7 separate regions of the Homo sapiens genome follow, and regions 2, 3, 4, 5, 6 and 7 are each linked to region 1. Evidence: fine-mapped expression QTL. A gene starts in region 1. Each other region holds a variant in brackets. All regions are shown on one strand. Distances are between the middles of the regions. Region 1 holds the start of ZNF514 (zinc finger protein 514). Region 2 overlaps MRPS5 (mitochondrial ribosomal protein S5). Region 3 overlaps LOC442028 (a long non-coding RNA gene). Region 4 overlaps FAM95A (family with sequence similarity 95 member A). Region 5 has its middle 15 kb from the start of ZNF892. Region 6 overlaps KCNIP3 (potassium voltage-gated channel interacting protein 3). Region 7 overlaps KCNIP3 (potassium voltage-gated channel interacting protein 3).

Region 1 (4,065 bases):
CAGACTTCCCAAGCCTGAGACCCAGAACAGCTCTGAATGTCACCTCCGTTGTTCTGAGGACACCAGTGGATCAAAAGGATCTGAGAGGCAGCTTCTAGCCTTCAAACATTGAGAGAAGTGCCCCTGTACACAGCTGCATGAGGCTCCCACCTGTCCACAGCCCACATCAGTCTACAAGTGAGTGAAGTGTGACCAGTCTGGCCATACCACTGAAGTTATTTACTGGGCATACTGTATGCAGGTCATCTCCTAGGACTTTTGGAAATATAAATATGGAAAAGAACTTCAAGGAACTTTAAATCTAGCCTACAGGTTAACAATTACACAAGACCCAAGGCAAGGCCATGCAGGATTATGAGGCTTTAAGGGGAGGAAGTTACACCTCTCCCCTCATCCTTGGGAACCCAGCTCAGAGGCCACCTCTTTCTGAGAAGCTGCCCCTGGTGTTCCCAAGCTCTGTTAGGTCTCTGCAACACACTTGAGAGCTCCTTCATTATAAAGCTTTGCATCATACTGTTCATAAAAGCCTTAAAACAAACAAAAAAACTAACCCAAACCATGCCAGAGAAGTAGTTAAGGCTAACAACATGGGTGTAAGCATAGCACAGTTAGGCATTCCTCAAGCTTCATGTGTGTGTGGATCCCTGAGGATCTTGTTAAACTCTGGCTCAAGACTTGCTAAGACACTGTTTGAGGATGTGTGGGGCCCCAGAGTCTGCAATTCTAGAGAACTTCTGGGCAATGCCTCTGCTGTTCCCAGAGCCACACTGATTAACAAGGGTATAAAGGAAAAAAGAGGGGGTGGGAAGCCCACGGACTGGGCCCAGTTCTTCCACTGGCCAGTTATGTGTCCTTGAGCATGTGCACTGAAGGATGAACAGTCGGATTAAAATGCCCACCTGGTTAGAGATAGGACGTTCTAAACTTAGGACTGGCTTAAAACCTCCTGGGTCACCTGGATTGCCCTGCCCCCAACGCTATTGGGGGAAGGGGCTCAGAGGAGATACCCACCATGTACACTGCTGACCTTATACACCGCTGAGCTAGAACGACTGGAAGAACCTTATTAGTGAGGTGATTAAGGAGGTGGATGACAAGGCTCCAAATGGCCCTATCGTCCTCTGATCCCTGGCCAAGGGCCACTCCCTCTTGGGTTTGCTTGCCCTCTCCCTGCCGCAGCAGGAAGAGATCAGATCCTCTTCTGCTCTCCTCTGGCCATTGGGACAATTTTCCATGGCCATCCCCTCCACCTCCGCCACGGTCATCTAGAGACCCCTGCCAGACCCAGGAGACTGCGGCTTCAGCCTTCTGGGTCTGGAAGGTTAGATGTCGCCACACGGAAGGCAGATGAAGTACAGCCTCACCCTTCAGTGGGATTCCCCGGCCTCTTCCTGGGGTCCTCCTGATATCGGGCTCGGTACTAGCTCCCCAAGAGGGCTCCTGGCCCTCTGCACGCTCCAGAGCCAAACCTGATGCTGTGGAGTCCATAGCTGGGGCTAAGGAGCGGCGTCCTTTCACTAGGTCCAAATCTCTGTCTTTCGGCCACAGCCCTGTGGTCCTCCCGAGGGTTCAGGGAGCGGGACGCAGGCTGGGGCTGCCTGGGGGACACGGGGCATCCCCACTAGGCGCGGCGGGGCCAGCGGACCTGCAGGGCCCAGAGCAGGGCCGGCAAACCCCGGTGCGCCCAGCGCGGCGCACTGCTGCCCGGGGTCGTGCTCTTCCCTCGCCAAGTCCGGCCTCCTACCCCCGGCTCGGCTCCTCCTCAGGACCAGGCTCTGGAACCCAGCTCCCACGTGGATCCACACGCACAGTGGGCTCAGACTACCAGGAGACACGGCCACAGCCACGCCCGCGACGCGAGGGCCCAGCGCTCTTCAGCTGCCCGGAAACAGCAGGGATTCGGTGAGAGCCTCACAGGAGCAGGGACCGACTCTATCAGCCCGGTTCGCCCCGCTGTCCCTGCCTAGCTCCGGCCTGCACAGTCCCTAGCGGGGGGCACTCGGAGGGACACACCCAGCTCTGTAAGGGGCCGGGGCGCGGGCCCAGTACAGGTCTGCGCGCCCGCAGTCTCCGAACGCTCACAGGACCAGGCCCCGCCCGCCACCCCGCGCCAGCCCCCGCCCGCCACCCCGCGCCAGCCCCCGCCCGCCACCCCGCGCCAGCCCCCGCCCGCCACCCCGCGCCAGCCCCCGCGTCCGCCCCGCGCCAGCCCCCGCGTCCGCCCCGCGCCAGCCCCCGCGTCCGCCCCGCGCCAGCCCCGCCTCCCGAGGCCGTCCCGAGCTTGCGCAGACGCGGCCGCCGCCGGGGCCCTTCAGAGCCAGCGCCGGTGGCGGGGTGCTGGCGCGGCGAAGCTGGAGAGGCGGGGCTCGCGGGCGCCTGTAGGACCTCCGCTGGGAGGGGCCGTGCTCGCCGGCCACGCGCCGGTTTTCACTCCGCTCTCCCCCAAGGGCAGGGACCTACAAGCATTTCCCTTCTCGCGCGTGACTTTGGTAGCTGAGCCTCATATCTCTCTCGTTTTTTGGGGGGAGGGGGGAGACAGCCTCACTCTGTCGCCCAGGTGGGAGTGCAGGGGCGCGCTCTCGGCTCACCGCAACCTGTCTTCTGGGTACAAGTAATTCTCGTGTCTCAGCCTCCGTAGGAGCTGGGATTACAGGTTCCCGCCACCACGCCCAGCTAATTTGTTGTATTTTTAGTGGAGACGGGGTTTCACTATGTTAGCCACGCTGGTCTCGAATTCTGACCTCAGATGATCCTCCCGCCTCAGCCTCCCAAAGTGCTGTGATTACAGGTGTGAGCCACCGCCCCCAACCTGCATATCTCGATGTAAGGCTATTCAACAGAAGCCGCGTTCCTACCCTGGATCTGCTGAGTGAGGATTTCCAGGAGGCTCTCCTGGCGTGCCTAGGGGATACTGGGGACTCAGTGCTAGATACTGCTTCTACAGGCTGCCCCGTGCCTCTTGCCTTTCTCCATCTGCCCCTGAATTCAGCGAAGGGTGCTGAAGAACAAAAGAGGACTTTGAACGCCCTCCTACTCCAGAAACAAATATCATTTAGGACCCAAAAGAAATGGAAAAACGGCCTGCTATGGTCTGAATGTATGTGTCCCCCTCAAATTCATATGTTGAAACCTAACTCCCAAGGTGATAGTATTAAGAAGTGGAGCCTTTGGAAGACTCTGCCCTCATGAATGAGATTAGTGCCCTTTAAAAACAGCCCTTAGACCGGTCGTGGTGGCTCACATCTGTAATCCCAGCACTTTGGGAGGCCAAGGCGGGCGGATCACTTGAGGTCAGAAGTTTGAGACCAGCCTGGCCAACATGGTGAAACCCTGTCTCTACCAAAAATATATTTAAAAATTAGCTGGGCGTGGTGGTGCACGCCTGTAATCCTAGCTACTCAGGAGGCTGAGACAGGAGAATTGCTTGAACCCGGGAGGCAGAGGTTGTGAGCCAAGATCGTGCCACTGCACTCCAGCCTGGGCGACAGAGCAAGACTCCGTCTCAAAAAATAAATTAAATAAATAAATAAAAATAAAAACGGGCCTTAAGCCCCCTTTGCTCCTCCTGCCATGTGAGGACACAGAAGGTGCCATCTATGAGAAACGTACCCTCACCAGCCCCTGAACTGGCTGGCACGTTGATATTGCATTTCCCAGCATCCAGAACTGTGAACAACAAATTTGTGTTGTTTACAAATTCCCCAGTTTAAGACACTCTGTTATAGCAGCGCCAATGCCTAAGACACAGTCTGAGTATTAAAACGGTGGTTTTCTGGAGGCAGTCCTCAGCCAGAGAAGGGCCACTTGTGAGGACAGAGAGATTGGTTTATCAACCCTATTTAGGAGTTCAGGACAAAATAACTTACAAAATCAAGGCAAAGACAAAATAACACGAAATCAAGGCAAAGAGACCATTCTCCTTTCCTGCTTTTGCAGTCTCTGTTTCACTTTTCTGCCAGCACTTCCAGTGGCACAGATGGCCAGGATGGCGCAGCAAGCAAGCCCTTTTCCACGCAGGGGGACATTGTCTGGGAACCATGGCTGATATAGGAGCTTTTCCATCTT
Region 2 (4,065 bases), 71 kb before region 1:
AAACTGAGCAACACAGAGAAAACAGACTGGAAAAAAAATAAACAGCGCCTCAGGGACTCACGGGACAATAGTAAAAGATTCAACATTTTGGTCATCAGTGTCCCAGAAAGAGGATGTGGGTGGGGCAGAAAGAGTATGCAAAGAAATAAAAATATATATATTCCACAGAATGGGTAAAAACTTCTGTAAAGCATGTATGATAGGGGGGCTTATATCTAGAAACTATAAGGAACTCAATAATAATAAAAAATAACTTTTTAAATGGGCAAAGGCTCTGAATAGACATTTCTCCAAAAAACATATACAAATGGCCAATCAGCACATGAAAAGATGTTCAACATCATCAGCCATCAGGGAAATACAAGTCAAAATTGCAATGGTATACAATTAATATACCATTTAACATTCCCAATAGTAGCCTACAACTTCCATTTCCACTGTGGAAAACGGTTTGGAAGTTCCTCACGGTAGTCAAGTTACTTAACTGCTCTGTAAAATGAAGTTAATCACATTCACTTTGGATGAATGAGTTCATATATATTAGCTATAATTACTACAGCAATTATCATTGTGTACATTATTACTGATTGGGTCAAATTATTAACCCCGTCTCCCTAATTCATTTACTTTTGTTACTTTGGATGAATATTTAAAGTAGTCTTGAACTGAGATATGTATGTAAAGGTTCTATCACATTGGCATATAACATGTGCTCAACAAATGAAAGCTATAATTATTTATTTCCAAAGAGTTTAAAGATTAAACTTCCCTCAAAACAAACAAAAGGCAAGGTAACATCCCAAGCTGTGAGGGGCTGAGTCTCTCCTAGGTGCAGGGCAGCACAGGAACTGGCTGCACAAGGCCAGAGAGGTTACGTGGCGGCTCTCTTCAAATTAGACCACACAGAGCGCTTCATTCCCTGTGCAGTCTTCACATCTTCCCAGTCCAGTTTGACGTCTGGAACCTCATCTTCTGGCTCTGGATCCTTCCTCAAGGGCCCCCGGGGGGACGCAACCACAATGGGCAGAGGGCCACATTCCTCCCGGATTTCCACAACATGGAGGCCCTTCTTATCAGCCAGCTGTTGATGGGTTTCCTAAGCAAGACCAAATTCAGAACAGGTTAGGTCTGAAGTACATTTGCAACATAAAGAGCAGGAACTTCCACAGGCCACAACAGTACAGCCTGGGGGTATTCAAAGGCCATTTCAGTGGATTTGGGTTAATGTGTTTTGTGGCTAAACTCTAATAACCTGTCATGGGTGGAGTCATTTCAGCCTCATCTGCTGCATCTGCCCACCCCAAACTTGGATAGAGGAAGGGCCTTGGCCTCTGGTCTCTTGCCTTCTAAACCCTCCTGATTATGCACCATGCTGTGCCAAACACTGAACTTGAATCTCACCAACCCCCTAGATCTAACTACCAATTTACAGTAAATATAGGGGAGATAAGACACTAAGGACCCTACAGGTATTTTAGTCAGCAACAGGCCAGGAAGCACTACAAAACAAACAACCTGGTTTCCTCAACAAAAAATCATAAGCGGGGCGGGGGTGGGGGAAGAGGAGGGGAACCTATTTAAAAGGCATAGCAAAAACATACATTAACCTGTTCTGCAACCTGATTCAAACACATTGTGTAAAAAAAAAAAAAATTTTTTTTAATCTAACAAATGGAATTTGCTCATTTGTATGAACATTGATTGGATATTTGATGATACAAGTTACTGTTAACTTTTTAGGTATGATAATAGTATTACAGGGTATTTTTTAAAATCCTCATCTTTTCGAAGATACATACTAAAATATTTAGGGTTGAAATAAAATGTCTGAGATTTGGTTCAAAATAACTGGGGGTGTACTAAGAAGCAAGACTGGTCATGAGCTGGGTAACAGGGCCATGGGGATTCACTGCAGAGGGAAGCCACAGAGATCTGGAAGCAGGCAGATTAGTTCAGTAGACGTTATTCATGGTACAATGACATACCTGCTATGTCAATCCCGTGATCCCAGGCCTTATGGCTGCCTTGCACTATTCTAATTATATATCTAATGCCCTGCAGTATGTGTGAAATTAGAAAACAGATGAGCCATTTCATAAACAAAATAATTTATATTGGTGTATCTTTCAATCAAAGGCATATCACCTAAAGTGGTGGCATCTTTTCCTTTTTGAGTGACATATTAAATAATGCAACCTTTTATAGCTGATGGCATTTTAGGAGAGATGACATATGGTAACTATATCAGAAGGTTTAAAAGACTAAAAGAAAACAAAGATATCACATAAAAGAACAAGTCTAGGCTGGGCGCGGTGGCTCACGCCTGTAATCCCAGCACTTTGGGAGGCCAAGGCGGGTGGATCACGAGGTCAGGAGTTCAAGACCAGCCTGACCAACATGGTGAAACCCCATCTCTATTAAAAATACAAAAATTAGCC[G/A]GGCATGGTGGCACGTGCCTGTAGTCCCAGCTACTCAGGAGGCTGAGGCAGGAGAATCGCTTGAACCCGTGAGGCGGAGGTTGCAGTGAGCTGAGATGGAGCCACTGCACTCCAAGCCTTGGTGACAGAGCAAGACTCTGTCTCAAAAAGCAAAAACAAACAAACCAAAAACCAAAAACAGAACAAGTCTACTGGATCATAAATACAACCTATCTAAAATCAACATCTTAATTAAACCTCTAATGTTTCAATTTACAAGTGCTCTGAAGGGTGTTTTAGACAGTAACACACACAAAAGCTGTTCAGAAAACAGAAGGCTTTTACCCAAAGCCTTCTTTTTCTTTTAATTTTCCTACTTTAAACAGAGACATGTAAAATTACTCCATGGATCACTTTACCTAAAACCCACCACTGTACTCCTGAAATGTCAGGAAGCCTGCCAAAGTCCTCAGCTAACAGAGTTCAGCAAATGGAGCCTATTGAACCTGGTTGTCTTTTCTGTTCATCCACCTATGCTAAGGTCTACCCATCCTTTCAAGAGACAGGCCAGCCCTCCTGGGCAGGTAGGGGAGCTGCCCAAGAATGGGGGCCCGGTGCAGTCACAGCCCTGCCCTCCATGGTGGGTGATTGGGAGCCGGGCCCAGGGCTCCCACCTATGAGGAAAAGTAACCTGATATGTTAATGTTCATAGTTCCCTACCAACCCAGGCATCAGTCCGAACCACCTACACAGGTAACAGGGAACTGACTGTGCCTGCCCTGTGTGCAGAGGTGCCCTGGGTGCTTCATCCTAGCCCCAACTGAAAGGACTAAATTAGGAAATGAACTTTCTCTTTTGATTTTACTTTTCTATACTGTTGGAGCTTTAGAACAAGCAGGTGTTATTTTCATAATAACATGTAGATTGTAATTATTGGCTTTAAAAATGCTGCTTAGAAAAACCCATGAAGTACTTTTTAAAAGGTAATTTTCAGGCCGGGCGCGGTGGCTCACACCTGTAATCCCAGCACTTTGGGAGGCCGAGGCGGGCGGATCACGAGGTCAGGAGATCGAGACCATCCCGGCTAAAACGGTGAAACCCCGTCTCTACTAAAAATACAAAAAATTAGCCGGGCGTAGTGGCGGGCGCCTGTAGTCCCAGCTACTTGGGAGGCTGAGGCAGGAGAATGGCGTGAACCCGGGAGGCGGAGCTTGCAGTGAGCCGGGATCCCGCCACTGCACTCCAGCCTGGGTGACAGAGCGAGACTCCGTCTCAAAAAAAAAAAAAAAAAAAAAAAAGGTAATTTTCATGAACTTGTCAATGGATTTAACTAAACTGATGCAGTCACAGACAACAAAGAATGCCCAACTCCTCAGGTGGCCCCAGGAAAGCATCTCCAGGAGGCCCCAGGGCATCGTAGCCCCAACACACACAACTGAAATACAAACTAGAACCTCTGTTTCAGACCCCGGGAAAGGATTACCTGTCTGGAGAGCCCACGGAAGAGGCCCTGGGTGAGGCTGAGCATATTAATGGACCCAGAGACCTTGGCATACATGTCTTTGATGCCAATGAGCCGGCAGATGGTGATGATGGCCCTGTGGCAGCGGAGGCCGTAACCTAGAAAAGGAGAAACCGGGTGAAACAC
Region 3 (4,065 bases), 280 kb before region 1:
ATCACTCAGGTCTGAGCTGTGCAGAGCTGGTTCCAGTGGCTGCAGGAACCACAGTCGCAGACCTGGAAGAAGCAAGGATCCTCCCCAAGAGTCTGCAGAGGGAGCGCATTTCTGCCCACACCTTGATTTTGGACTTGTGGCCTCCAGAACTGTAAGAGAATAAATTTCTGATGTTGTAAGCCATCACTACAGCAGCCCGCGAACACTAACGTAGCTCAATACGTCCAGGCTCCTCTCTCTGTTTGTTGTTGTTCTAGGTTTTTCTGAGACAGGGTCCGGCTCTGTCCCTCAGGCTGAAGTGCAGTGGCACAATCACAGCTCACTGTAACCTCCATCCCCTGGGCTCAAGCCATCCTCTTGCCTCAGCCTCCCCCCACAGCTGGGACTACAGGCAGTGTTGCCATGGCTGGCCAACTTTTAAATTAGGTAACCCTTCCCAATAACTTTCACGATTAGTTAACATCTTCTACCTTCCTATTTATTTTCCCCTTTTTAATACAAACACATGCCCATTAAATAAGCAAAATAGGAAAAAATTTTAATCACCCAAAGCCCTACCATCTACTTACCAGAGAGACAATAATGGCACAAGGATATACTGCCAAATTACACTAACTTTTAGTAATCCAAAGCAATAGAAAAATCTCCAGTTTTCAATTTATTCTTCTTAGATTTCTAATCAAGAAAACCTATTTTCTATACTAATGCAAATACATACAAAAGGAAAAGACACACTTATGAAGCAAAGGGATGAACTGGAGTCCTAATGTTACGAGAGGCTGGTAGTCATTTATTTGTCATCACTGAGGTATTTTCAGAAAATAGCCATGGTTCCCAGAACTTTAACAAGCACAATGATCCACTCTTAGATACTTGAAAGTCAGATAAGAAGACATCTATCCCTTAACTAGTTGTTATGCACTATATGTGAATAAAACCATATAATTTAAATTTCCTCAATTAATTCTCACAGACAGTACGCAACCTCACATCACCATGATCTTTTACATAAATGTCAATGTTCTATTGTAAATCGTGACAGACTATCTACATAGAATACTCATGATTTACAATTTGAGATTGTCAACCCAGCCAGTAACCTGTGTAGCACTGAATTCAAATACCAGAAAGAGGACCCAGATTCCCTCACCACCTAGCAGAGCTCAAGTGAGCTACACAGCCCGGTAGGAAATGGGGACTAAGTAAAAGGTTGTAAGCAGGTACTACTATAGTCAGATGAGTTTTTGACAGGTTATTCTAAAAGCACTGAGAAAAGAAAACTGTTGTAATATTCCAGATAAGATCACTTGGTCTGTAAAAGGACAGTGTCAAGGATATAGAAAAGAACCATCAAGGAATTTCAGAGGGTAACCTGGATGTGATTATATAGTACCACATCAAATGATCATCAAGCTCAAAGAAGGCACAGGGGAGCAGGAGGCTGCTTTCCCCAGGTACTGTCTTTCCCAGGCTTGCCCAGCAGTCCTGGAAACTGACATACACACACACACACACACACACACACACACACATATACACACACACACATATATATACTTGTTCTTTGCCATCTGATCACACTAGAAATGCCTGAAAATAAACCAGTTCCAGTATTAGTACAAACACTGTGACTAGTGTCCTGAGGACCGCTTTGATTGATCTCATTATCCCTGCTTTCTAATCTAACCTCCATCTCCTGGGCTCAAGCCATCCTCTTGCCTCAGTCTCCCCCCCATAGCTGGGACTACAGGGAGTGTTGCCATGTATTAAATATTAAATCTGAAAATTAAGTGAGAAAAGATTTAAAGAATGGCAAAAAGAGACAGGAAGAGAGATTTTAGGATGTTACTGCTGTGTTGGTAAGAGATAAAAAATAAATGTCTTCCTCCAGCGTGGCAATACCTCAAGGATCTAGAACTAGAAATATTTG[A/C]CCCAGCCATCCCATTACTGGGTATATACCCAAAGGATTATAAATCATGTTGCTATAAAGACACATGCACACGTATGTTTATTGCAGCTCTATTCACAATAGCAAAGACTTGGAACCAACCCAAATGTCCATCAATGATAGACTGGATTCAGAAAATGTGGCACATATACACCATGGAATACTATGCAGCCATAAAAAAGGATGAGTTCATGTCCTTTGTAGGGACATGGATGAAGCTGGAAACCATCATTCTGAGCAAACTATCGCAAGGACAGAAAACCAAACACCACCATGTTCTCACTCATAGGTGGGAACTGAACAATGAGAACACGTGGACACAGGAAGGGGAACATCACACACCGGGGCCTGTCATGGGGTGGGGGGAGGGGGGAGGGATAGCATTAGGAAATATTCCTAATGTAAATGATGAGTTAATGAGTGCAGCACACCAACATGGCACATGTATACATATGTAACAAACCTGCACATTGTGCCCATGTACCCTAGAACTTAAAGTATAATAAAAATAAAAAATAAAAAAAAAAGTCTTCCTCAAGTTTACCATCAAAAAGTGCTATACATGATTTGCAAGTATTTTCTTCCATCTTGTGGGTTGTCTTTTCAGTTTCTTGATGGTGTCCTTTGAAGTGCAAAAATGTTTAATTTTGATGAAGTCCAATTCATCAATTTTTATTCTTGTTGCTGGTCTCATATTTAAGAAAACTTTGCCAAATCCAAGGTCATGACAACTTACTCCTGTTTGCTTCTCAGGATTTTATAGTTTTAGTCCTTACATTTATGTGGATTCACTCAAAATGGATCCATTTGATCCATTTTTTTTTTTGCATCGTTTTTGTACATGGTGTTGGGTAAAGGTCCTACTCCAGGTTTTGCATATGTTTACATATCTAGTTGTCCCTGGGCCAGTTTTCAAACTTCTTTCCCCACTGAATAATCTTGGCACCCCTGTCAAAAATCAGTTGGTTATATATGTATGGGTTCATATCTGACTGTCAATTCTATCCCACTGGTCTATACATCTACCCTTCTGCCAGTATTATATTGTCCTTATTACCATTGTCTTGTAGTAAGTTATAAAGTCAGTAAGTATGAGTTCTCCTACACTGTTCCTCATTTTCAAAAGATTATTTTGGCTATTCTCAGTCCCTTACAATTCCATATGAATTTGAGAGTCAGCTTGTCGATTTTACAAAGAACTCATCTGGGATTCTGACAGGGATGAAGTTAAATCTGTAGATGAGTTTACGGAGGACTGCCATCTTAAATGTTAAGCCTTCGGTCCATGATCATGGGATACTTTTACATTTATTTAGATCTTCTTTCACTTCTTTCGACAATGTTTTATAGTTTTCAGAGTACAAGTTTTACACTTCTTAAATTTATTAGTAAGTATTTTATTCTTGTTGATGCTATGATAAATGAAGTTGCTTTCTTAATTTCATTTTCTGATTGCTCATTGTGAGTATGTAGTACTCAGTTAAAGTGTGTCAAATACTATTGATTTTTGTATATTGATCTTGTATCCTGCAACCCTGATGAACACAAGGGATTTGTATCTAGAATACATATGGAAGAATTACAATTCAGTAAATAAAAAGACGAAACAACCCAATTAGAGATGGATAATTCAAGAATGGATAAACAAACTGCAATACATGCAAACAAATGGAATATTATTCAGCAATTTGAAAAATAAGCTATCAAGCCATGAAAAAAACACAGAAGAACCCTAAATGTATACTGCTAGGTGAAAGAAGCCAGTCTGAAAAGGATACATACTACATGATCTATTACATGACATTCTGGGAGAGGCAAAATTAGAGAGAGTGAAAAGATCAGTAATGACCGGGGGTAGGAGAAAGAGGAGGAGGAGGAACGAATCAGTGGAGCACAGGAGATTTTTAGGGCAATGAAATTGTTCTACATAATACTGTAATGGTGGGTACATGACATTATACATTTGTCAAATCCAAAAATTTATGAAACACAGAGTGAACCCTAATGTAAACTATGAACTTCAGATATAAGTATCAGTTCATCAAATCTAATAAATGTAGCACAGTAACGCAAGATGTTAAGAGTCGGGAAGACTGGGCGGGGGCATTGTAGGGGAG
Region 4 (4,065 bases), 410 kb before region 1:
ATTTTCAATGTGAAGCCCTTCTGAGCTCCATTCAATTTAGATTTAGAATTCGTATGCTCCATGATACCTTTTTTGTCAGTTTGTTTTTGTTGGTCACAATTTGACTGCATTATGGTCACATTATGTGGTTTTAATGGTACTGATTTGGGGTACCTGTTATGACTTTCATTTTGGTCTAATGTGGCCAATGCTGTCCATTTCCCTGCTATATCCGTTATTCTCATCTTCTTCACTAAGGGAACATAGATTCACTTTTTCCAAGGAGCACTGTTTAAATGTATTTATGTGTTTATCCACATTTTATTATTTAATTTATAATTTTTTGAAAAATGGTCTCACTCTGTCTCCCAGGCTGGAGTGCAGTGGCATAATCAAAGCTCATGCAGCCTTGAACTCCTCATGTGATCTCCCAGCTCAGACTCCTGAGTAGGTAGGACTGCAGGCATAACAGGTGTGCACCACCGCACCCAGCTTTTGTTTTGTTTTGTTTTTGTAGAGACTGGGTCTCGTTATGTTACCTGGACTGGTTTCAAATTCCTGTGCTCAAGTGATTCTCCCACCTTGGCCTCCCAAATTGCTGGAATTACAGGCATGAGCCACCATGCCTGGCCCTGGCTTATGTCTTTAAATGAGTTTCCCAGTTTTTCTCATAACTGTAGTGAGCAGAGCTTATAGTCCTGGCCAATGTGAAATGCAGAATTCACTGCTTTGGATTTCTGAAAATCTGTTTGGAAAGGGGAGAGTTATTGTTCTTCTTTTCTCTTAACCAAGTTCCCTTTGCTCTCTCTGCTTGCTGCTCTCTTCAAATAAGATGAAGTGCCCTGAGTTGGGTTTAGCAACTTGAAGACAATTGGAACGATTGTCCCTACAACAAAACCTTCAATCTACAAGATTTCTCCCTCCCCAATGGCATGTAGGGTATCCCTGGCTGCCCTGGACTATTTCTGGACTTATTTCATGAAACTAACCCCTAGTAGAACTAAGAAACATTTTAGGAGAGATGTTTATAACAGATTAAATGATAAACCTAAAAAATGAATAAAACATATTATAAAGAGAATAGACAAAATGGGCTTGCAGATGCTGACTGGCCACACTCATCTTTGGCACTCGCCCCCATGGATGCCTCACCGACTGTGACACTTGGAGAGCTGGCAGCCATCACTCAAAAAATCAGAACACAGTGGCCTCTACTGCAGCATCAGGGAATAAAAAATAAGCTTGTCAGCTCTGAAGAAACATACTTGTGTGTGTGTGTATATATATATGTGTGTGTGTGTGTTTGTGTGTGACAAATTTATTCAGTGACTTTGAGGTATCTCATGCTAAACAGATAAAATGAATTAAAACTAGTGCAAAGTTACGGCAACAGTACTCCCCATTATGTATCCAGGGCATTGAAAATTGGCACACATCACAGATCCTTAAGTAATTCTCTGAACCAGGAGAACAGAGAGAGCTCACTGTATGTGCCAGTCACTGGACTGAGTGCTGTGCCTACAGGATCCCACTTGATGCTTGCAATAACCCTGCAAGATGAAAGTAAAAACTCACACACACACATATAAAAACTCACACACAAACACACACACTCACACACATATACTCACACACATAAACTCACACGCACACATATAAACTCACACAAACACACTCACACAAACACACACATAAACACACACTCACACACAAACACACACACATATAAACTCAAACACACATATAAACACACATACACACACACAAACACACACACATAAACTCACAAACACATATAAACACACACAAACACATACACACACATAAACTCACACACATACACAAACTCACACATAAACACACACACATACACAAACACACACACACACATAAACACACACATAAACACACAC[ACACT/A]CACACACATAAACACACACACACATAAACTCACACACACACACTCAAGCACACACTAGAAACTACAGAACAAAAAAGCACTGATAACTAATAGAAGTACAGTGCTGGCCAAGCAAAGTGGCTCATGCCTATAATCTCGGCACTTTAGGCCAGGAGTTCAAGACAAGCCTGGGCAACATAGCAAGACACCATCTCCACAAAACATTTTCTTAAATAAAAATCATTTTCAAAAACAGGTATAATGCCTAAGGACTCAGGGAAGCAATACGCCTGTGGCTGTATGGTAAGCAGCAGGCAAGGCTATTTGTGAGACCAAAGTGGTAGTGACTCCAGGGTTCCTTTGCACACTTAGCCAGGAGACTGGCTAGCTCAGCACTGCCTGGGTTCACTTTACCCTTCTACAGCTCTAAAGCTCTGGCAGGTGGGACCTAAGCATCAGAGAAAGTGCTATTATGCAGGACTCTCTTGACCGCAAGTGACTGACACCTAACTTGATCCAGCAGAACATTGAACTATTTGGCTCTACTTACTTAAAATGTCCATGAGTAGATGGGCTTCTGGCTCAACGGGATCAGGGGTCAACTAATATCAACCAAGGCTCATTCTGTCCCTTCATTTCCTGTGTCAGCTCTGCTTTTCTAGTGGCTGTTTTGAGACAGCAGCAAAAATGGCCCCATAAAGTTCACATCACTTACTTCCTTGCAAATAGCTATGCCAATAAAAAGAAAGCACCTCATTCCCAGCAGTTTCATCAAAAGTTCAGGGATGACTTCCATGAGCCCAGCTTGGATCACATGCCCACTCCTGAATGAATTACCCTGCTGATTGCCCAGGGTGGGTCAGCCTTCCCAAATGACATGGACTAGACATGGAGAAGTGGTCCTCCCGTGGGAAAAAAAAAAAAAAAAAAAAGGAAGGCTAGTGGCAGAGGAATATGAGTGGGAGGGCCTCATCTCTATATAAAAGTATGAGTGTATTTGTGTTCTTTTGTACATTCATTTGTAGTCACTGGGAAGAAAATGAGAAAAACCCACACGACTTTCTACATGCCTCTGTGCTTTGTTTTGAACACTGAGCTGTGAGAAATTTAGTTATTAAAACAAAACTTTGAAACAATATAACAATTTGGGACAATGGGGACACTTAGCTGATGCAGCACAGGTGAGCAGTTCTTCTTTCGTGCCCATGAGGACACAATTCCCAGGAGGCTACCTGGGGTCTCCTAGGACAAGCATGTGGGCACCCACTGGCTGCAGTTCCACCTTTCCTTCCCTGGACTCTCAGGAAGACACGAGTTCTGGATTCAGCTGAACTGAGCTCAAGTTCAGGCTCTGTGACTCACTGGCTCTGTAATTCTGGGTAAGTCTCTTGCTCTCCTTGAGTCTCATATAATCCTTGGTAAAATGGAGAGGTAGAGTTATTGTTAGGTTTTGAAGGCAAGGCTAGGGTTAAAGAAAGACAGAGAGACATGGTTGGTGGCTTCAACAGCAACACCTTTATTACTAGCAAAACCCTGCAGAGGAGGAAATCAGCTTAGTGCCATCACCAACTGCCGCTCACAGGCTGGGGCGATCATGGGACTGGGAAGGAGGGGTCTGGGCGGTAGAGCTTGCTGCCCGGCAGGATATGGCAAGGATGTTCCTGCAGTCAGGCTGTTGGGCCTTCGCCCGGGAGGATGCGATAAGGATGTTTCCGCAGTCAGGTGGTCAGGAAGGATGCTTCTCATGGCCCGAGTTCCCAAGGAATGTTTCATTCTGACCAGGGTTTGCAAAATGGCTGCAGGATTACAAAATGGTACAGGTTAGACTAACAGCAACATCTCCCAGGTAGACAGTTCTATAAAGTAAACTTCCCTTGAGCATCTACACTGTACCAGACATGGTGCTAGGACCCAGGCCACAGGAGGAACAGAACAGATGAGGTCCCTGTCATCCTAGTGCTCATGTTTGATGAAGGAAGCTAACAGGTCATAAGACCAGCTCAGATGGTGGTGGTAATGAAAGACATTACCAGAGTGAGATGAGCTAGAAAGAAACCAAAGGAGCTGTTCCAAACACAGTGACAGGGAGAGACCCCTCCAAGAGGTGACTTTTGAGCACAAACCTGAGATATGTGGAGGGGGCCATGGAGAAGGACCAGCCCCTGAAGCCATCTCAGGATTAAAGACCC
Region 5 (4,065 bases), 33 kb after region 1:
TCACTCTGTCCCTGTTGTTTTTCTTTTAAGGAGCTACCAATCAATCAGCCAGTATTTTGTATTTGTTCTTAACACATACAATACTTTCTTCTTAACTAGCACTCAAAGCTTTGATCTCTATTTGCTATTTATTTTAGACCAGAAGACTAGATCTAAGAGCCAGGACTCCACTCAAAGGCAGGATGTTTCTAAAAAAATAAAATCACTAAATACATTAATGAAAAACTCTGAAAAGATTTTCCACTGGGTCCTGCACTTATCCCTGAAAAGCCTGAGCGCAGAAAGAAGAAAAACCATTCAGGGAAACGCTGAAGAAATCTGCGCCCAAGGAGAAGGACTGAGGCAAAGATCTACTCTTGCCAAGAAAACTAACAGTAAGGGGAGGAACTTTGAATGCAGCATGTATGGGAAGACCCCATATAACCACGTAGTCGTCACCCACCATCAGAGGACTCACAGTGGAGGAAAGCCCCATGACTGTCAGGAATGCAGAAAAGCCTTTAGCTGTAGGAGTCTTAAGAAAAACCTGATGTCAGCCAGTGGTTCATGCCTGTAATCCCAGAATTTGGGAGGATCACTTGCGCCTACGAGTTTGAGACCAGCTTGAGCAACATAGTGAGACCTTGTCTCTATAACATTAGTTAAAATCGAAAAAAGAAACACCTGATGTCACACACTGGGAAGAGCCCCTTTGAATGCAATGAAAACTTTCTACAACTGATTAACCCTTACTGGGCATCAGTGAACTCATACTGGAGAAAGTCCTTATGAATGCACAGAGTGTGGGGAATCCTTCAGTGGGAAAGTTATTCTGACTGGCCACAGCAAACCCGCCCTGGAGAGTGGCCCTAGGAATGCAGGGGTAGGGTAGAGCTCTGTTGTGTAGGGAAAAGAAAGAGAGATCAGACTGTCACTGTGTCTACGTAGAAAGGAAAGACATAAGAGACTCCATTTTGAAAAAGACCTGTACTTTAAACAGTTGCTTTGCTGAGATGTTGTTAATTTGTAGCTTTGCCCCAGCCACTTTGACCCAGCAACTTTGACCCAACTTGGAGCTCACAAAAACATGTGTTGTATAAAATCAAGGTGTAAGGGACCTAGGGCTGTGCAGGACGTGCCTTGTTAACAAAATGTTTACAAGCAGTATACTTGGTAAAGGTCATCGCCATTCTCTAGTCTCAATAAACCAGGGGCACAATGCACTGTGGAAAGCCGCAGGGACCTCTGCCCTTGAAAGCGGGGTATTGTCCAAGGTTTCTCCCCATGTGATAGTCTGAAATATGGCCTCGTGGGATGAGAAAGACCTGACTGTCCCCCAGCCTGACACCCGTAAAGGGTCTGTGCTGAGGTGAATTAGTAAAAGAGGAAAGCCTCTTGCAGGTGAGATGGAGGAAGGCCACTGTCTCCTGCCTGCCCCTGGGAACTGAATGTCTCGGTGTAAAACCCGATTGTACATTTGTTCAACTCTGAGATAGGAGAAAAGCTGCCCTGTGACGGGAGGCAAGACATGTTTACAGTAATACTGCCTTGTTATTCTTTACTCCACTGAGATGTTTGGGTGGAGAGAAACATAAATCTGGCCTACGTGCACGTCCAGGCATAGTAATTTCCCTTGAACTTAATTATGATATAGATACTTTTGCTCACATGTTTTCTGTTGACCTTCTCCTTATTATCACCCTGCTCTCCTACTACATTCCTTTTTGCTGAAATAATGAAAATAATAATCAGTAAAAACTAAGGGAACTCAGAGGCCGGTGCCGGTGCAGGTCCTTGGTGTACTGAGTGCCGGTCCCCTGGGCCCACTATTGTTTCTCTATACTTTGTCTCTGTGTCTTATTTCTTTTCTCAGTCTCTTGTCCCACCCGACTAGAAATACCCACAGGTGTGGAGGGGCAGGCCACCCCTTCATGTTGGACCATTCATCCCTCATTCGACACAGGACAGTGCACACTGTAGAGATGCATCCCGAAGATAATGAGGGTGGGAAGGTTTTCTTTATGGCTCGTCCCTTAATCAGCAACAGAAAATTCATAGTGGAGACAAGCCCTATGAATGCATTGAATGTAGGAAATCCTTCCTCCAGAAAAGATGGCTCATTCACCATCAGAG[A/G]GTGCACCCTGGAGAGAAGCTCCACGAGTGCAGCATGTGTGGGAAAGTTCTCAGTCGCAAGTCCTCTATCATCCAACATCAGTGATGTTTATGCCAAACAGGCTTCGGGGTACCATGGAGGTGCTTCAGCCAGACAAGCAGTCCCCAGAGAGACTTAGCATGTTTTTGTTCAAGGTAATGACGATTTATGTTTGAGCACCTTCTATCAACTGTGTGGGTGGCAAGCCACCCAGGCACCGAGGCAAGAGACAGAAGACACGAGCTGTTCCAGTATAATAAAATATAAAACAAGAATTGTTATACCAGATATAGATCTTAGATATGATTATATATGAGTATCATTAATCATTAGTTGGTAGCAATTACTTTTTATTCCAATATTATGATAATCCTCACTCAATAATCATAGCCTAGGAAAAACCAGGCCATACAGAGATAGGAGCTGAGGGGACATAGTGAGAAGTGACCAGAAGACGAGAGTGCGAGCCTTCTGTTATGCCCGGACAGGGCCACCAGAGGGCTCCTTAGTCTAGCGGTGACGCCAGCGTCTGGGAAGACGCCCGTCACCAAGCGGATCATGGTCCAGCAGTAGCAAAAGGTGTCAAGAAACAACACCCGCTACTTAGCAGACCGGGAAAGGTGGGGGGGGGGGGGGCGTCTCCCTTTCCCTGGGGGAGTTTAGAGAAGACTCTGCTCCTCCACCTCTTGTGGAGGGCCTGACATCAGTCAGTCTCGCCCGCAGTTATCCAGAGGCCTAACCGTCTCCCTGTGATGCTGTGCTTCAGTGGTCACGCTCCTAGTCCACCTTCATGTTCCATCCTGTACACCTGGCTCTGCCTTCCAGATAGCAGTAGTCAATTAGTGAAAATACTAATAGTCCCTGATATGCAGAAATAATGGTGTAAGCTGTCTTTCTCTTTGTCTCCTCTCCCTGTCTGCCTCGGCTGCCAGGCAGGGAAGGGCCCCCTATCCAGTGGACACGTGACCCACGTGACCTTACCTATCATTGGAGGTGACTCACATTCTTTACCCTGCCCCTTCTGCCTTGTATCCAATAAATAACAGCGCAGCCCGACATTCGGGGCCACTACCGGTCTCCGCGCATTGGTGGTAGTGGTCCCCCGGGCCCAGCTGCCTTTTCTCTTATCTCTTTGTCTTGTGTCTTTATTTCTACACTCTCTCGTCGCAGCACACAGGGAGAGACCCACCGACCCTGTGGGGCTGGTCCCTACACAACTGCTTATCCTTATGCCTCCATTTGGTACCACAGTCTTAATAAATAGTCTCAATTAACCATCCCATACACTTCATTGGGATATCTCAAATTTGAGATGATGCCTGGAGGATCCCCAAATTGGTCAGAAGCTCTCCAATCAATATGCTTTGCAGGTGTTTGAAGGAGACCCTAAGATAGGGAACAGACATATTATGTATTTATTTATCGCAAGGCTGAATGCTGCAGGAGAGCAAGAACTCCTTCATATCTGTGCATTGCTGTGTTCCCAGTGTGGGGCCTGGCACTCATCACGTATTTTCTTTCTTTCTTTCTTTTTTTTTTTTTTTGAGTTGGAGTCTTGCTCTGTCGCCCAGGCTGGAGTGCAGTGGCGCGATCTCAACTCACTGCAACCTCCCCCTCCTGGGTTCAAGAGATTCTCCCTGTCTCAGCCTCCTGAGTAGCTGGGACTACAGGCGCCCACCATCACGCCTGGTTAACTTTTGTGTTTTTACTAGAGATGAGGTTTCACCATATTGGCCAGGCTGGTCTCAAACTCCTGACCTCATGATCCACCCGCCTCAGCCTCCCAAAGTGCTGGGATTATAGGCGTGAACCACCGTGCCCGGCCTCATCATGCATTTTCTAAACGAATGAATACCTGAGAACTTGAGCCAAAAATCAAATGCACTTATACAACTAGAAACTTTAGTAAGAAAATAAACATCAAAGAAAATGTG
Region 6 (4,065 bases), 160 kb after region 1:
TCTTTTATTGAATCTACGGTGTTTCGTTCTCAAGCAAATGCCAGAGGAGCCAGGAACAGAGGCTGTGAGGTGCACAGAGGGGACCACTGGCCCACCTGATCGTCCAGTGCCTCCTCGGCCCCAGCGCCCCTTGGAGGGCACTTGTGAAGCACTTGCTGTCCCACACTCCGGGTGGTTCCTCCCCAGGCCTCCCAGCCCTTACTCCCCCGATCCTGCCCCTCCACCTCCCTGACCCCTGAACTAATGGTTAACAGCCATCCATGAATCAGTGTAAACCTGTGCCTTCGGCCCTCTCTTCTTCAGACAATGTGGGCAACACATGTACCAGGAAGATGTCCCTTCTCCACGTCCTTCCCCTAGGTGGGCCTCAGTGTCACCTAGAGTTGGGGCCAACATTTCTTGCAGCTCTGTCTATAAGTCACCTCCGAAAGTTTTTCCTCCTCAGACGGCTTCGAGACCGTAGGGGGCGGGTGGGCTGTGGGGAAAGCGGCAATGCAGCAGGTACTGTGGGAGTCGCAGCCCCCGCAGGTACAGCCTCCCTGCGCCCTCCAGACCTGCCCTGCCTCGGGCCCCATCCACAGCACCTGGGCATGACGACAGAGCACTGTGTGCACATGCAGATACCAGTGGGGCTGGGCGAGAGGTTGATACTCGATTGCTGTTGGGTGTTTCGGGGCTCATGGCCACCTACTCTGTCTCTCTGTCTCTGTCTCTCTCACCATCAGGCGCTCCACCCCCACAGCAGCCCAGCAGTGGGAAGTTAGCTGAATGCCAACAGGAGAGATTTTTGGCATTGCTCAAAACCCAAGAGACCACAGATTTCCCCTCTGGGGGCCTGCCATGGCCCCGTAGAGCATTCCAACTTGCCTTAGACTCATCGTGTGTCATTGAATGTTCTGGGTCATTAGGCCCAAGGGGCAGCACTGCTTGTACTTGGCCTGCACCTGCGGAACAGCCTCTGAGCCGCACATTTAACTGTGGTGCACAGGAGGCCCGCCGGGCACCGCACCTTCCTTTACTGGCAGGGGTGCGAGGCGCAGCAGCTCGTCTTTCCCTCTGCAAGGGATCCCTTGGCTTGCCTGAACTTGCATATAACAGAAACCCCAAATAACAGTGGCTTGATCAAGACAGGTGCATCGGCTCCTATATGGGAAACATGGGGTGAGGCGGTGGCTGGCACTAGTTTGGCAGCTGGGGGACGTCAGTGTCAATGTCTTGGGTTCTTCTACCGTTCCCCTCACTGTGGCAATGTGGTTGCTTTGCAGCCCACACAGCCTCATTTCAGGCAACAGGAAGGAGAACCCAGGTGGAAGCGGAGAGTGGTGGTCCCCATGTCAGGAAGGCAGCACTCACAGAAGTCTCTGGAAGACAGATGCTTCCATTCCACTGGCCAGAGATAAGCTGCCCTCACTGCGAGGAAGGCAGGGGAATGGTGGAGTTTTCAGCTGGGCGCATTTCCATCTCCAACAGCATCTGAACCCTGCTGGTGAAACTCAGGAAGAATGAATACAGAACTGGCATTCTCAGCCACATGTGGCTTGCAGGGTTGTTTTGATGACTGAAGGCACTCACTGGCACCCAGAAAGACCTTAGCAAGCTGCCTGGCTGTTATCGCCTTTATTTATTGCTAAGTGCTCAAAAATGTGGAGGGCAGGGGGTTGGTCAGCTCCAGTCATGAATTTGGCTCTCCCTTCTGCTCCTCAGCAGAGGAACCGCTTCCCACTTCCCCTTCTGCATTTTAGAGAGGCACAGCAGGGCTGAGGGATGAGGCCAGTGGATAGAGGTCAGAGGTCAAGAGACAGCCTAAGGCTAGGGCCCTACCTATGCCCCCGTCCTACTCAGGGCCCCTGGCCCTGAGCCTCCTAGGCAGGGGACTGTGTGAGAGCAGGCTGTTCCCTGTCTGGCTGCAGAGAAGCCCTGGGGCCCGGGTGAGGCCCCTCTGCAGTGAGATCACACCCTCAGCTGATAATCACACCAGTGTCACCTCCTCTGTTGGTGCTGGGAGCTCAGGAGTGACGCCCACCCCATCCCCACGCCTCCCAGCCCAGGAAGCCGCAGGGGCCCTTCTGCCTCCAGGAACAGTGAGCTCCGGGGGCCTGGAGGCTGAGGCCAGGCACCAGGTGAAGGGGCCAGCCCTGTGGCAGGGGCAGGG[G/A]CTACCTGAGAAGGCAAACCCAAGGCAGGAGGACTGAGTGCACTCTGGCTGCCCCGGGGCTCTGGGCTGAGGGGCAGGCAGTCCCCGGAAAGGCTGGGAGAGCCAGAAGCAGGGACAGAAAGCAGAGGAGAGAAGGACAGGCCCAGAGCGCCCAAGACACTGGGGACAAGCTGAGACCAAGAGGAGAGACGCTGCTTTTGAGAGACAGAGACAGACAGACAGACCAGGAGTGGGGAGTCCTAGAAAAAGAAAGGTGTTGAGTGTCAGGCTGAGGAGAGGCTGGCAGAGGAGGTCAGGGAGCAGGCTTGTGGGGGTACCGCCTGCACAGTGGCAGGCAGGGCAGAGCTGAGGGCAGGAGTCGGGCGGATTAAGCCAGGCCCAAGGATGGCAGGGTGCGGCCCTGGCCCGAGGCTGCAGGAGTGCCAGCATGGCTGTGGGAAGCACCTGGGAGGCATCATCAGCGTCTTCTTCCGCTTCATCTCTGGGAACCTGGCTGGAGGTGAGGGTTGCTTTGGTGGGGCTGGGATGGGGCTACAGAAGGGACAGCTTTGGGCCGGGTCAAGGATTGGGCCTGCCTTATCTGGGGTAGGGGTGACAGGGGGCAGGGGTGGGCAGTGGCCCTGGGAGCAGGACCAGGAAGGACTGCAGTCTTTGCAGCCCACCCCTCCCCACTGTGACCTGGGGACAGTGAATGCCAAGCCTGGGATCCCCCACTCATGGGCCCAGGGAGGGAGAGCAGATGGGGAGCCGCTGGCTTCTCCATGGGGTACACAGACTCAGGACAAGCCTGGGCTGGGAGAGAGTGGGGTGGCTCTCAGGCCAGTCCTCCTCCTGTGCACACTGACTCGACCGCCCAGGCCCTCCCCGTCTCCTTCCCTCACTGGAAACCCTCTCCTCTTCCATCAAAGGCAGAAGTGGTGTCTGTGATGAGGATTAACAAAAATGGGCAGGTGTGTATTAAGACCTCTATACAGAAAGTGCTCAGTTAATGACAGCCACCTCCCAAAACCTATGAAACCTAAGCAACCTGGAGGCCTTGGCAGGGATGTAGGGGACTCCCTGAGTCGGTACTTGTGGGCCCAGGCCTGTGGGGAACCGGGAGGTGGGTGATCCACAGCCAGCCAGTTCCACTCCAGGCTCTCCCTCCTCTGCCTGCACCCGGGGCTGAGCAGGACCAAGACCAAGTCTCGGCCACGGGGCTACGAAGCAGGCACAGGGGTGGTGCCCTGCATGGGGGGACCTGGCATTTGCTGGGAAGGGTTGATATCAGGAGCTTCAGACCCTGAAAGGAGTGAGCATCAGCAGCTTGGAGTGCTGAGCAAGTGCTGTGGGGACGCGGAGGAGAGTAGGCTAAAGAAGTCAAGTGATTTCCAAAGAGAGATAAAATGATGTCCCTAAAACAAAGATGAGCTGGTGTAGACATGTGACATGTACATCCCAGGACCTGGTGCCACAAGCTGCCTATGCTGCCAGAAGATGCTGCCCCCATGCTGAGAGGTCACCTGCAGCCGCCGGCAGGGCTGGGCTGCCACAGCATCTCCAGGGACCAGGGGCTCATCCCCCAATCTTGTCCCTGCCCTGTCCTGAGTGCCTTGCACAGAGCCTGGCACATAAAATACCTGTCAAATTCATGCATGACATTTTGAGAAGCATGCAAATGTAAGATTGAGCATACACTCACGCATCCCCAAACAAGTAGAATAACAGGGGCTTGGAGAGCGGTAGAGCAGCACAGAGTCTGCAGGAGGAAGGCGGACCCTGCTGTGCGGAGGCTGGTGGAGCCGGGGGCTCAGTCTAGCCCCAGGTGGCAAGTTTGGTGGCTCTGAGTGGGGACTCGGAGAGCCCAGGGTTCCTGGGCCTTCCAGTTTTTCAAAAGAGAGGGGAATGCTGTGGCTACATGTGCTGTCCCTTAG
Region 7 (4,065 bases), 140 kb after region 1:
AGGGCAGAGTGGAGAAACGTAGCGCCTTGCCCCAGGCTCACACACTACGGCGTCAGGGTGCACAGTGCAACCGTGCCCATAGGCAGAGACACATTGAGCGACCCTGCATGACTACAGAGATGGGAATTTCCAGAGTCAGGCTGCACACAGATGTGCACACAGCCAGCTCTGACCTCCAGCAGAAGACAGTCCTCCCCTCCTTTGCCTTTCCTCTGCGGGCCTTAACTGCCAAAGGTCACTCTGGGAGCTTGGCCACTCCTGCCCCTGCCAGACTGGCAGAGTGGGTGGCCTGAGTCCTGCACTTACATCTGGTTCTTCCCTTGGCCATTGTGACCCCACACTGCGCTCTACCCTCCCACAACCAGCTCCTGGGCCCCAGTGGGTCTCACTGTCCTTATGTCTGCTGGTGGCCTTCCTGTGGCTGGCCTGGCCAGGGAGGGGAGTGGGACCCACACCTCCTGGTGCTGGGCCCAGCAGAGACAGTGGTCCTAGGAGAAGCCACCATTAGGTTTCTCATCAAGATCAATGGGAGATTGTGAAAAATAACCTTCCTCTCTTGTGGCAGCAGGGACTGTAGTCAGAGCTCAGGTTGGGAGGTGTTCTGACTCCTCAGGGTCACGGTCAGTGGCTGTCCCCCAGTAACGCCCCATGACTGCCCGGCTCCCTAGCCTACTCCCCAGCCATTCATGAATTCTCACCTCACTCCTATGGGGAGGCGGGGAGGCACTGCCATTCCTATTCTAGACACTGAGGCTCAGAAAACTGGAACAGCTCCAGGACTCCATGAGCTTGATCCCATGAGCTCTTAGGAGAAAGGAGCGAAAGACCCGCAGTTTCTGCGACAGGCGCTGCTGTCGCGGTGTTGAGGCTGTGGTGTCTTCACAGCTCAGCCCGTGCACTGGGAACCCCTTTTGCCTGGCTTCCAGCCTTGTTGCAGGGCACTGTGCGAGATGGGCCCTAATTTGCTCCCACATTTCAAAAGACCCCAGGCTGCACTGGGAAGAAAGGGGCTCTGCCTCAGCCCTCCAGGTAGAGCCCAGGAGAAGGGCAGAGCTGAGAGCCAGAAGCCTGAGGGTACCAACGCCCATCTAGGACATTGTCTCCCGCATTATCTCCCTGGACCCTCACGCAGCCCACAAGGCAGCTGTTGGTATCATCCCCACTTCACAGATGGGGAAACAGAGGCCTGCCCCAGACTGCAGGCTACAAGAGTTGTGGCTGAGATTTGAACCCTGCTCTGTCTTACTCCAGAGCGCAGCAAGTCCCTAGGGCTTGGGGGTTGCGGAAGAAGACGCAGGAGGAGAAGGGCATGCCTTTAACCAGATGGCAGAGGAGGGGCCCATCCCAGCCGTGCGGCCGGTGGTCTGTTGTGCCCTCTGAGCCCTCCAGTGAGTGCACACAAGCCAGACTCCACCTGGCCGCATCCCCTGCGTTAGCCACGTGACCTGGAGCTAGCTGCCTCCCATTTTTGGACTGTGGATCCAGAGCTAGGAAGTAAAGGACCCCAACATTTTAAATTCAGGCTGCCTTGTCTTATCAAGACCTTCTGTGTGAGGCAGGGAACTGCTTTACTGACTTAGCAGAGGGGCCTTAGAGCCCCCCTGCCCTCCCCAGCCCACCCCTGGGCATCCCAGTGACTTCCAGGAGCAGCCAATGTGGCTTCTGCACGGAAGAAAGCACTCTCAGTTTCCAAGGTGAAGCAGAAGAGGGGAGAGAAGTTAGCA[C/T]GTCTTTCTGGCCTAGTGCCCAGACCTGGGGCAGGCAGGAGCCTGAGAGTCGGGGGAGGGCACAGCATGGGGCGAGTCCCGTGCTGCTTCCTGCCCAGGGCTCCCGGCCTCAGCTGACTGATGTTGCCTTTGAGCAGGTGCGTCTGTCATCTGAGATCAGCCCATGCCTTAGAAGGCCAAAGAGCAGCCCTGTGGCAGGGAAAGAAGCAAGGGGACCTGCAGAGTTGGAGAGGGAGCAGCTGAGCTGAGACGGGAGGGCAGCGTGGGGGTGGCGTGTCCCACACTAGAGTCGGCCCAGCCTCCCCCTCTGACCTGCCACCTCAGCTCTCTGCCCAGCATGCCCTCTCCATCAGCCTGGCCATGCCTGGGCCAGGCTCAGCCAGGAAAAGCAGCTGCTGGTCTTTTCTGGCCTCACCTCCCAGCCTGCCCAACGCCCCCAGCCTTCCCCAGCCTTTATCACATGGACAGTAGGCAGATGCCAGGGTAGGCAAGGGACAAGTCCCCTGCATCCCAGTCCTCTGCTGCTGGTGCCACATGCCCCTGTGCCCAGCTCTGTCGTGGGATCCTCTCTCAAGATGGGCACTCTGGACAGTGCTCCAGAGAACCAAACTGTAGCCCCACCTCTGCCCCACTGACTCAGGGCCTCAGTCTTCCCATCTGGGTCTGAGAGATGCTCACAGCATCTGCCAGGCCTTGTGATGAGCAGTGCAGGGCTGGGAGGCACGGGCCTGGCTGACTCAAGTCAGGGCCACTGCCAGCAGTGCCCCACATGTGCACACAAATGTCCATGGGTCTTGCGCAGAGCCCTGATCCTCACTGTGCGGGACTAAAGGACCCCGGGCAGGAGACAGGCATGGCCAAGAGGCATCATGGCTGTGCCTTGTTGGCTGTGAGCCCTGACTGCACCAGCAGACCTGGGCTCAGTCCAGGCCCTGTCACACACTGGCTGTGTGTCCTCTGACAGGTTACTTAGCTCATCTGTGCCACTGTGTCCTCATTTTCCTGGGGGAAGTATGAATATCACAGAACCCCCAGATAAATGTGATCCTATACCAACCAGCTTGGCCTGGCCCCTGGCACAGAGTGAGGCCTCCACACATGAAGGGAATACCTATGCCATCCCTTCTGACTGTTGAGGAGAGCCTGGGAAGGCCACCAAGAGGCAATTTGGCCATGGGCAACTCAAGTTCACCCCTGGGTTAACGTGACACCCTCACTGCCAGGCAGCATGGGGAGCTTGTCCTTGTCAAGGTGGCAGCCATCAGAGCAGGGGTGGACAGCCCAGCTCTCCTGCTCCAGTGCTGCCAGAGGGCTGGGGCCCAGGGCTGTGTGTGTGTGTGTGTGTGTGTGCGCGCTCATAGGTGTGTTTGCAGGCATGTGTACGTGTGTGTGTATGTGCATATGTGCACACATGCATCTTCAGGGACTCATGACAACCTCGGCTCCCCCGACAAGGCGAGCTGCCTTGCCTATGTCTGTCTGTGCCCAGGGGTGGGTGGAGAATCCAGGCTCCCCAAAGCTTCCCCATTCCATACCCTGGGGCCTGCACGACACAACGCCCACCACTGCTTCCTGCCATCTGTCCCGAGTGATGGAAATAGAGCCAGTGACAGCAAGCAGTGCTGGGTGGGCCAGTCTGCACCGCAGCAGCCGTGGACAGGGTGGGGGGTGGGGAGCCCCACATCTGAGTAGCCTGGATGTCTCATGCTGGCCCTGGCCTCGGTGAAGCCCTTCCGGAAAGGAAGGGGGTGAGAATCGGGGGACCCCCTTTGCCTTTCAGGCAAGGCCAAGAATTTTCTATCTGGAGGGACAGACACTCTAAACAAATTCCCCAAGCTGCATTTTCAGATCTATTGAGGAGCTTTATAAGAACAGAGTAGCCCAGCCCTCTCTGCATCAAACAATCCAGCTCCTGGGCAGGCAGATGGTGAGAGCCTCCCCACGTGATTCTGGCATGTGGCAGCTGAGAGCGGCACATTGGGCCTCCCTGCCAGGCATGCTAGGCTGTGGGTTTGGACAGCCAGACCCTCCCTGGGATCAGAAGGGCGAGGAACACTGACTCTCCCCCACTGGGGGCTTTGTCACCTTGCCTTCCCCTTAACCCTGTGAGGGCACATTGTCACCCCCATTTTGCAGATGAGTAAACTGAGGCTCGGAGCTGTCAGGTTCTCTGTCAGGGTCACCGAGCTGGGAAGCGAGGGTGCGGGATTCATGTAACTGGTTGGCCACAGACCCCTCCCACTGTCCTCGGCTGCTGGAAATCACATCCACCTGCCTTCGATCTCCTGCCCTGCCCCCAACTAGCCGTGCCCTCTGAGCCCACACCCAGGGGCCCTGGTGG

The links. PIP is the estimated chance that this variant, and not a neighbour inherited with it, causes the effect. A credible set is the group of variants that fine-mapping cannot tell apart.
Region 2: its variant is the best candidate, but not a certain one, in a credible set for the expression of ZNF514 in whole blood (TOPMed, PIP 0.80).
Region 3: its variant is the best candidate, but not a certain one, in a credible set for the expression of ZNF514 in whole blood (TOPMed, PIP 0.79).
Region 4: its variant is the best candidate, but not a certain one, in a credible set for the expression of ZNF514 in skeletal muscle (FUSION, PIP 0.83).
Region 5: its variant is the best candidate, but not a certain one, in a credible set for the expression of ZNF514 in lung (GTEx, PIP 0.72).
Region 6: its variant is the best candidate, but not a certain one, in a credible set for the expression of ZNF514 in blood mononuclear cells (TOPMed, PIP 0.85).
Region 7: its variant is the best candidate, but not a certain one, in a credible set for the expression of ZNF514 in whole blood (TOPMed, PIP 0.83).

The regions. Positions count from the first base shown.
Region 1 is chr2:95,157,496-95,161,560 of GRCh38, forward strand. ZNF514 (zinc finger protein 514) reads right to left here and starts at 2,353. Exons shown (of 5, transcript NM_032788.3): 1 at 1,745-2,353. RefSeq lists a silencer at 2,180-2,429.
Region 2 is chr2:95,086,486-95,090,550 of GRCh38, forward strand. It overlaps MRPS5 (mitochondrial ribosomal protein S5), which reads right to left. Exons shown (of 12, transcript NM_031902.5): 11 at 3,901-4,037; 12 at 1-1,096. The coding sequence ends at 872. Among named protein-coding and RNA genes, the nearest start is that of MRPS5, 33 kb to the right of the region's middle. RefSeq lists an enhancer at 968-1,533. The variant G/A (reference allele first, on the strand shown) is at 2,439.
Region 3 is chr2:94,881,290-94,885,354 of GRCh38, forward strand. LOC442028 (a long non-coding RNA gene) reads right to left here. Exons shown (of 10, transcript NR_037597.1): 8 at 1-149. Among named protein-coding and RNA genes, the nearest start is that of TEKT4, 12 kb to the left of the region's middle. The variant A/C (reference allele first, on the strand shown) is at 1,931.
Region 4 is chr2:94,751,958-94,756,022 of GRCh38, forward strand. FAM95A (family with sequence similarity 95 member A) reads right to left here. Exons shown (of 3, transcript NR_038409.1): 2 at 4,000-4,065; 3 at 3,369-3,672. Among named protein-coding and RNA genes, the nearest start is that of FAM95A, 7.2 kb to the right of the region's middle. The variant ACACT/A (reference allele first, on the strand shown) is at 1,893.
Region 5 is chr2:95,190,459-95,194,523 of GRCh38, forward strand. It overlaps the pseudogene LOC100287523. Among named protein-coding and RNA genes, the nearest start is that of ZNF892, 15 kb to the right of the region's middle. The variant A/G (reference allele first, on the strand shown) is at 2,113.
Region 6 is chr2:95,315,310-95,319,374 of GRCh38, forward strand. All of the region lies in intron 2 of KCNIP3 (potassium voltage-gated channel interacting protein 3), which reads left to right. Among named protein-coding and RNA genes, the nearest start is that of KCNIP3, 20 kb to the left of the region's middle. RefSeq lists enhancers at 429-929, 3,322-3,823. The variant G/A (reference allele first, on the strand shown) is at 2,153.
Region 7 is chr2:95,298,803-95,302,867 of GRCh38, forward strand. The region is part of intron 1 of KCNIP3 (potassium voltage-gated channel interacting protein 3); the gene reads left to right. Among named protein-coding and RNA genes, the nearest start is that of KCNIP3, 3.5 kb to the left of the region's middle. RefSeq lists an enhancer at 1-178. The variant C/T (reference allele first, on the strand shown) is at 1,725.